2 separate regions of the Homo sapiens genome follow, and region 1 is linked to region 2. A link means that fine-mapping ties the variant in region 2 to the expression of a gene that starts in the linked region. Tissue or cell type: monocytes. Region 2 holds a variant in brackets; the other region holds the start of a gene. All regions are shown on one strand. Distances are between the middles of the regions. Region 1 holds the start of ZWINT (ZW10 interacting kinetochore protein). Region 2 has its middle 60 kb from the start of ZWINT.

Evidence for each region. PIP is the estimated chance that this variant, and not a neighbour inherited with it, causes the effect.
Region 1: ZWINT starts here. The variant in region 2 is fine-mapped to the expression of ZWINT in monocytes (Quach 2016, PIP 0.95).

What each region holds. Positions count from the first base shown.
Region 1 is chr10:56,359,685-56,364,080 of GRCh38, reverse strand. ZWINT (ZW10 interacting kinetochore protein) reads left to right here and starts at 2,822. Exons shown (of 9, transcript NM_007057.4): 1 at 2,822-2,885; 2 at 3,698-3,788; 3 at 3,940-4,063; 4 at 4,228-4,394. The coding sequence starts at 2,845. LOC124902546 (a long non-coding RNA gene) reads right to left here and starts at 2,622. Exons shown (of 2, transcript XR_007062372.1): 1 at 2,225-2,622; 2 at 1-56. RefSeq lists a silencer at 2,555-2,764 and enhancers at 2,855-3,024, 2,373-3,112, 3,852-4,396, 3,738-4,396.
Region 2 is chr10:56,419,258-56,423,658 of GRCh38, reverse strand. No RefSeq gene overlaps it. Among named protein-coding and RNA genes, the nearest start is that of ZWINT, 60 kb to the right of the region's middle. The variant CAA/A (reference allele first, on the strand shown) is at 2,531.

The DNA of each region.
Region 1 (4,396 bases), 60 kb after region 2:
ATAGGTGTGAGCCACTGCATCCAGCCTAGTTAGTCTTCATTTTTGAAAGCTGTTTGCTGGAAACAGAAATCAAGGTTGACTTTTTTTTATTCTTACAGTACTTGAAAGATGTTACTCTACTGTCTTGCTTGCATTGTTCCAAGAAGAAATTTCCCGTAATCCTTATCTTTGTTTCTATGTAACATGTGCCCCAACACCCCTTATTACTTTAGAATTTTTTATCAATGGTTTTGAGTTATGCAATTATGGTATAACTTGATGTCATTTTCTTAATATTTCTTGTGTTTGAGATTTGTGAAGCTTCTTGAATATATGAATTTATATTTTTCATCACATTTCAAATTTTTTGGTCTTTATTACTTGTTTTCTTGTCCTCTCCCCTTGCCTCTCTGAGACTCCACTTTCAAGTATATTATTAGGCTGTTAGAAGTTGTCTCACAGCTCACCATTGATTTGTTCATGTTACTTTATTTTCATTTTTTAATGTTGTGATTGATTTTGGGTAGTTTCTCTAGAGCTGTGTTTCACTTTCATTCTGCAATGTGTAACATACTATATTAATACCATCTAATTCCATCTATCACATTGTAGTGTTCACCTCTACAAGTTTGATTTAGGTCTTTATTACAAGCTTTGTGTCTTTGATTAACTTTTTTAACAGCTTTTATGACAGCAGTAAAGTGTAAATTTAGCGGTTTTCTGTATAGAATTGTACAACCTTCACCATAACCGAAGTGTAGAACATTTTATTTATCCCTTTAAAAGAAACACTATATCCATTTGCAGTCCCTCCCCATACTCTCTCAACCTCTCATTCCCACCAATCCCCAGCCCTGGACAAGCACTATATAAATTTACTTTCTGTTGCTATAGATTTGTCAAATCTAGACATTTCACATAAATGAAATAATATATTATGTGGTCTTTTGTAATTAGCTTCTTTCACTTAGTATATTTTCAAGGTTCATATTTTAGCATGTAGTAACCATTATTTAGCATGTAATAAAGTTCTCTTTACTACTGATTAATACTTCATTGAATGAAAGTATGCATTTTCACTCACCAGCTAATGGGCCTTTGGGTTGTTTTTACCTTTCAGCTTTTGTGAATAATGCTGCTATAGAGGTTTGTGTACTTTTGTGTCCCCATGTTTTTATTTGTCTTGGATATATAACTAGGAATGAAATTGTGACTCATATGGTAACCCTACGTTCAAAGCCTATGCACCAGTTTACATTTCCATCAACATGAGAATTCCACTTTCTTTACATCCTTAGCACCACTTACCTTTTTCATTATAGTTCTGATATCTTTTTGAAGATATGGGATATAGTTACAATAACTGTTTTAATGTCCTTGCCTGTTGATTCTAACATTACTTCAGTTCTGATCAGCAATTGATTTTTCTCCTCATTATGTGTTTTTTTTTTTCTTTTTGCAAGCTTGGTAATTTTTCTTTGTATGACATATGTAAATTGCACCTTTGGTGAACATTTTTCTATTTCTATAAATACTGCTGAAGTTTGGTCTTGTCATCTGTCATGGTTTGTTAAGTTTGATCCATTTGGGTCTTACTTTTAAGAGTTAGATGGCACTACAGCACTGATCAGCTAGGACTAATTACTGCCTACTAAATAATTAGTAAACAACTATCAAATCAAGACTTTTTTGTGTGTACTCTGTCCAGTGTCCTACGGACTATGAAGTTTTCCAGCCTGGTTAGTGGAAATAGAGACTATTTCTGACCCTCTGTAATGTCCATATATATATATTTATATATATATATATATGTATTTTTTTTTTTTTGTGAGACGGAGTCTCGCACTGTCACCAGGGCTGTAGTGCTGTGGCGCAATTTCGGCTAACTGCAACCTCAGCCTCCCTGGTTCAAGCAATTCTCCTGCCTCAGCCTCCCGAATAGCTGGGATTACAAGCGCCCACCACCACGCCCAACTAATTTTTTTTGTACTTTTAGTAGAGACGGGGGTTTCACCATGTTGGCCAGGCTGGTCTCAAACTCCTGACCTCGTAATTCACCTGCCTCAGACTCACAAAGTGCTGGGATTACAGACGTGAGCCACCGCGACCGGCCATGTCCTGGTATCTTTAAAAATCTTTTAGCTAGTTTCTTGAGACACATACTGCTCAGTACTCAGCTGAATGAATACCAAGTTCTCTCTCAGCAGTTATCTTTCTCCTGTACTCTGCAAAGAACATTACCTACCTTGGTCTCCCCAGAATATCTGTTCTATTTTGCCAACGCAGGCAATCGGCTGGGCTCTGCTTGAGTTCACTCTCCTGCATCGCATCTATAAAATACTAATATCTTTGAAAGCAGCTCGCTTTTTGAGCGCAGATCATTTGCTTCCTGTATCTCCCGGATCACTATTCTTTACTGATTCCCAGCGTCTTAGAAACAGCCCCACTGTTTTTCGGGGTTTTGTTTTTTTTTTTCTACAGCAGTAGTGAATATTTTAAATAAAGTGTCAATGCTGTAAGTTTCCCTTAAAACGCAAACTCAAGGAAATGCTTTCCCTTTTTCGAGTAGAGAAAGAACTTCCACAGGCGCGCGGTCGAGCTCAAGCCCACTTATAGTCTCTGGCACCGCGTAAGGACTAGCGCGCAGGCGCAGAGCCCGTGCGCGCCTAGCCATAACCGCGCTTGCGCCAAGCAGCGAGGCCCGCCAACGAGCGAATCCGCGCCTGCCAATTAGAGCGCACAATGGTCCTTGATGCCCGCCCACTAACCTCTGCAGCCAATCGCCTGCCCCGGCGCGAAGTCGACTGTGACTTCAAAGTAATCTTAGGGATTGTGGGAAGGCAGCTGAACTCGGCGCCTGGAAAGATGGAGGCAGCGGAGACAGAGGCGGAAGCTGCAGCCCTAGAGTAAGTGTTTGCGGCTAAGTGGCAGCTGGGGCCGGGCCTGGGAGGACCTTGTGGGCCCCTATGTGTAATGATTGGTGCCCTCGACCCTGTACAGCTGTTGAGGTTCGACCCTGCCGTGAAGTGATCCTCACCGCAGTCCCGTCTTAGGTTCCTGAGGTGTCTGTTGCCTGCTCCAGGAGTACAGCCTTTGGGGGACCGTTCGCCGCTCCCCACATCCACATAATCCACAGGATGTGCTCTAGGAGACGGTTTCACTTCTGTCTTCTTGTCCCAACACGACACATTCCCAGTCACTTCTCATCCCCATCCCTGCCCCTTCGTAGATTGCTCCAGTCCCTAATAATGAAAAACCCTAGAGTAGACCGAGGCATCCAGCCCTCTGCCCTGAGTCCTTTCTCAGCTATTCCAAGACTCTGCCCCAAGGCTGGTGCTCAGCGCCAGGAGGGATCCCAAGGCCCAGCATTCTTCCCCTTCCTTGCATATCTCCCTGGCTTCCTTCACATCTTGACTCAAATGATTTCTCTTCAGTGAGACACTCCCTATTTAAAATTTCAGCTCTTTTCTCAAACTCCTTATCCACTAGCCCTGCTGATTTTCCTTTTGGCACGTATTACCACCGTGTGCCCTCCATGCACGCCATTCCTGGTTGCAGGCTGTGGACCCTTCAGGCCCTTGTGTAAACTCTGGTCAAGGCAAGACTCTCAATACTATATATACTGATATACACATCCACATTTGTTTGTGTACACACACGAACTGTAGAACTAGCACCACAAGAAACTGCAATTTCCTGTGTTTCCTTGCCCCTCCAGGGTCCTGGCTGAGGTGGCAGGCATCTTGGAACCTGTAGGCCTGCAGGAGGAGGCAGAACTGCCAGCCAAGATCCTGGTTGAGTTTGTGGTGGTATGTACAAGATGAGAGCGAGCCTTTCAGAAGCCAGGGTCTGGTCCTGGCTCCTCTTACTGAGATACAGGGCAGCACTGGCAGAGAGCAGACTTAAGGAAACCTGTAAGGAGGTAAGGATGTTCCCTGTCTCTGCCCTCCCTCTGAGCAGGACTCTCAGAAGAAAGACAAGCTGCTCTGCAGCCAGCTTCAGGTAGCGGATTTCCTGCAGAACATCCTGGCTCAGGAGGACACTGCTAAGGGTCTCGACCCCTTGGCTTCTGAAGACACGAGCCGTGAGTAGGCAGGGGATTGTAGTAGCAGCTGACCTGAGTGGGGAAGGAAGGAGGATTTCAGTTAGGTCTCCCATTTGGCTGATGGGAAGGAGGCCCAGTGTTGCAGGGAGGCAGGCTAGCAGGCCACCCTCACTCATGTACTCATTCCTGGTGGCTCATCTCAGGACAGAAGGCAATTGCAGCTAAGGAACAATGGAAAGAGCTGAAGGCCACCTACAGGGAGCACGTAGAGGCCATCAAAATTGGCCTCACCAAGGCCCTGACTCAGATGGAGGAAGCCCAGAGGAAACGGACACAACTCCGGGAAGCCTTTGAGCAGCTCCAGGCCAAGGT
Region 2 (4,401 bases):
CTTTTGTATTTGTGTTTGTTTTCATTTTTGTTTTCCTGGTTTCCTAGGCAGGTATAGTGGCTTCCACTTAGCCCTTTTTACCATAATAGTCCTCAGTCCACAGGTAAGAAAACCAATATGGACATTTAGCCAGCTGCTGAATATATGTATTCCAATTATGCATTTCAGAACTGGATAAATAACCAAAGGATGGGTTTGGGAAGCCGCTGGATCCATTGTAAGATAAACGTGCGCTAAACCTTTGCTCACCTGACTTCCCAAAGCCCGTACTCTGACTATGGACCTTAGTGACTGTTTGGGTCTCCTGGAATTAGTGACAGTTCAGAGCCAGTGTCCAGTAGTCCTTGAAAGATCTGATTACTTTCTTTTTCCAAATATAGAGTTACTCTGGTAGAAGGCCATAAGTTTATTGAGGAAGACTTGGAGAAAGATTAACAGTATAAATGTTTTAGCAGCGTACCTGGCTAGACCAGCCTACCCTTCATTTAAGGGATTCTGGGTCTGTAAACTGGCTCAAATCTGGGAACTGATTGATGGATTATGACTCTCCCTCCCTATGATTCAGGTTAGATTTTTGTGCACTTGACCTACAACTTTTCTTCTTACATAAATTAAGTAGTAATTTAGTAGGATTCCTAACTATTTCACTTCTAGGAACACCATATTCAACTAGCTGAGACCATAGGTCTGCAAAAGTCAGATTATTTTGACTGCTGCTTTGACTCTGCTGTCCAAGCCAACCTTGCCTTTGTAGTTGAGCACCACAACTTGGCCCCTGCTGTACCCAGAATCCAGTTACTTCCACAGCATTTAGGTTTTCCAATTCAGTGAGCGTGATTCCCATTATAAGGCATGCCTACAGACAAGAGTGACCACAGAACTCTTCAAGGATGCTAGGGTTCCCCTCACAAATATATTTTCCACAGTCATGATGAAAGGTATGTCTTCTGGCTGCTTCCAGTGAGGGTGAATATATCTTGAATCACAAATTCACTCTAACATTCCCATCTTCCTAAGCCATTCAACCCTCTCTCCTACATTAAACCAAGGCAGATCCAGCATTTCCAAATTGCTGTATACCATTTGTGAATCCCATTTTGACCAATGTTTCAGCCAACCAACCAAATTGTTAGAGTTCTTCCTATCTCTTCAAGCTGCCACATTAAATTCAGGATCTCTGCTTAGAGAGCCTATATCAATAAATTCAGCCAGACCTAACTTCATAGTCCTTCCACCACTATCCCACATTTTCACTATCCATTCCCACACATATTCACTATTTATGTACAAATTAGAAAACTCAAGTAGTTATCTTTGAGTGTAGTATACCTCCTGGGTCACACTTTGTACCTCACCTGTAGGGGACTGCTGAGACGTGAGTCTAGTTATAATTCTAGAAGGAAAAATGGTGGTGAGGATGAGTCCTGAGGAAAATCAACATGATCTTGCATGACAACTGCTTCAGGGGAAGCCATTGCAGTTTTCTAAGGCAATGCAGATTTAATCTTCTCTGACAAGAGTGAAGAGGCATCTCCTGTTTAATAGAGTAATGAGGAAAGGCCTACCTCAGGAGGTGTCATTTGAGCTAAATGATGAAAAGGAGGCAGTCATGTAATGGTCTGAATGTTCAAGAAAAATAACAGTATGTGCAAAGACCCTGAGGTGAAAAGGACATTGGCATATCTGAAGAAAAAGAAACTTTCATATACAGTTCTTCTGTGTAAATGTCTCTTGGATATGGAGTTAAAATAAAGAAGAAAATCTAAGTACTTTACACTAGAATACAAACTGAAGTAGATAATATAGTAAAATTTGCAGTTTTGATTCAATAGCAATTTTGATCTCCCAAAAATTATTTTCTGCTATAAAATTATTTGCTTAGAGTTTAACTTGATATATTTCTCCTTAGATTCACTGAAGCTCAAAGCATATTAATCTTTTGTAGTACTGCTATCACTGGTATAAAGATTTTATTCAACTGTATAGGTTATATCAGATTCTTTACTAATTCTTCCCATTGCTACAAATGATACATCCTAACAATGTATGTTCTCTGTTTAGACTTGACATGCAAGACTTTGAAAAATAAAAACTAGGATGAGTAATACATCACAATGAAAATTTCTGGAATTGATACCTTAGTATTTCTTTTGTAATGATTTGTAAATCTATGCATGTCTGTACTAGAAGCATTTCCCTAAAGAAAAGACTGCTCTTTTACTGTTCAGATTTTAAATATGCACATCCTGATCTTAGACATTATAACCAGACTTCCACTATCAGACCCACAACACAATGCTCATATTCACAAACAGCCTCAATCCATAAATAATATTATTTACTATTTGGAAGAGAGCACAGAAAACTAAGGAGCTGTGATGGAAAAGATTTTCACAAGAGTTTAAAAGGAAATAACAGGATGAATACACATTTTGTCTTTACTTCTTTTAAAATTATTAGCTTCTGGTTTAGGTAGCATTGGCTTTCTCTACTTCCTGCACACACACACACACACACACACACACACACA[CAA/A]ATATACACACACACATATGTGTGTAATATACATATTTACATAACATTAATTGTGTAGGTAAGTAAATGGTTGTTCATGGATTTTATAATATTTCAATTGTATATTGATCCGTTAATGTGACTATAAAATATTATATTAAAGCTAGGATTTTTAAAAAGCTGTTAGCTGCACTTACTGAGCCCATGAAAATTGACAAGTAAACATAGAAAACATAACTGCCAAATTATTTATGAAACTTTTCTTAGCATAAGTATTTTAAGGCTGCCCGTGTATCTCCAGATAGATTTGACAGCAGATAAAATAAAATTATCTAATTAGAAAATAGAAAAACAGTTTCTTCAGCCTCAAATTATTCATCAGTATCACTAGGATATGTGCAGAACAATGGTTATAAATGTTGATTTGTACTTACTGGACACTGAGGTAGAGTGAGAGCTTGTGGATATTGGTATTCAGGAATAAGCAATGGCTTTGAAATCTGTATGATCAAGGTTGAGGTTTGTATGTTTATCACCTTCCGGAATAAAGAATTGAAAATGCAGAAGACCAGAAATAATGATAATGAAAAATGCAACAGAAGATATTTGTTTTCTTAATATTTTAATACTCTGGGATTAGGATGCCATTCGTGGTCTACTGTAGAAATAGAATTAGAAATTCAGAGAAGAAAAGGAAATTTTGGCTAGCAAGTTCCTTTTGGATGCTTTCTTAAAGAATTGTAACTTGAGTCACAGTGCAGAAACCTTAAAGTGCCAGCAATGAGGTGAAAGCCATTTCTTATAATTAGAAGTCTGAAACATTTGAAAGGAATAACTAATTAGGACTAGAGAAAAATTTAAGAGAGAAGAGCGTAGACTAAATGGCCTAGTGAACTCTTGGTGTTTGCAAAAAGTATCCGTACTTTTTTTCAGTGCTATAGATATAAACAAATTTACTTGGAGTTGACCAAGGAAAAGATCATTGAAATGCATTTTGGCTATCCTTCCTTCTATGTCTTGAAATCTATAGATGTATGCTGTTTCCCAGTGTGTTCTTTTCAAGATATTCTTCCTATTTTGGAGTAACATTCACAACGACTTTCATAGTGAGATGGACAGTGTAATTTTGAGTTCCTTATTTGAGAGTATTGAATGCCAGAACATGTTCAAATGAGAGGTCAAAAAGAGCCTGTACGGGCAGAAGACTTCCACTTCTATCCTCTTCAGTTTCTTGTTGGGTCCAAGAATTACATTGACTTAAGAAAAGTTTTATAAGGCTTGGGAACCCTCATAAAGAACTGAAGATCAGAAGAACCAGAGTCAGTTACTTATATACTAAATTGGACAAGGAATACTAAACAGTGAAAACATGACTAAAATATGTGGAGGTTTAAAAGATAAGTTATTCTAGCAAAGTCTGTACCGAATTCTCTTAATTTCAACTTCTTGTCCTTGAGGAAAAGGATGCTACGTATGTCAAGTATAGAAAGGGTTTCTTTCACACAGTAACTTCATCTTCTGCTTTTAAGAAACAGTATGAAGATCAAAGTGTTTTTCTTACACCTGCTATTTTTCAAGTGCCTTTTCTTAAATAGTCAATATTCCAGAAGAGCACAATATTTAACCCTCTCAAACCAAATACTTTGTTAAAGGGACTATCTTTCATGCTAGGTATCAAATTTTAGGGTTAGAAAATCAGAGTTTTTGATGTAAAGCTAAAGTTATCAAGTAACTTTTCTACATTATTATACATAATTAAGGTGATCATATAATCTGTCTAAATGTGAGATTCTTTAAAGGAGAAAAGAGGAGGGACAGTTGCTTAGTTAGTCAGGACATTAAGACAACATAGTAAATGAAAACTGCATAGAGCAAAGTAAATATAAGGGT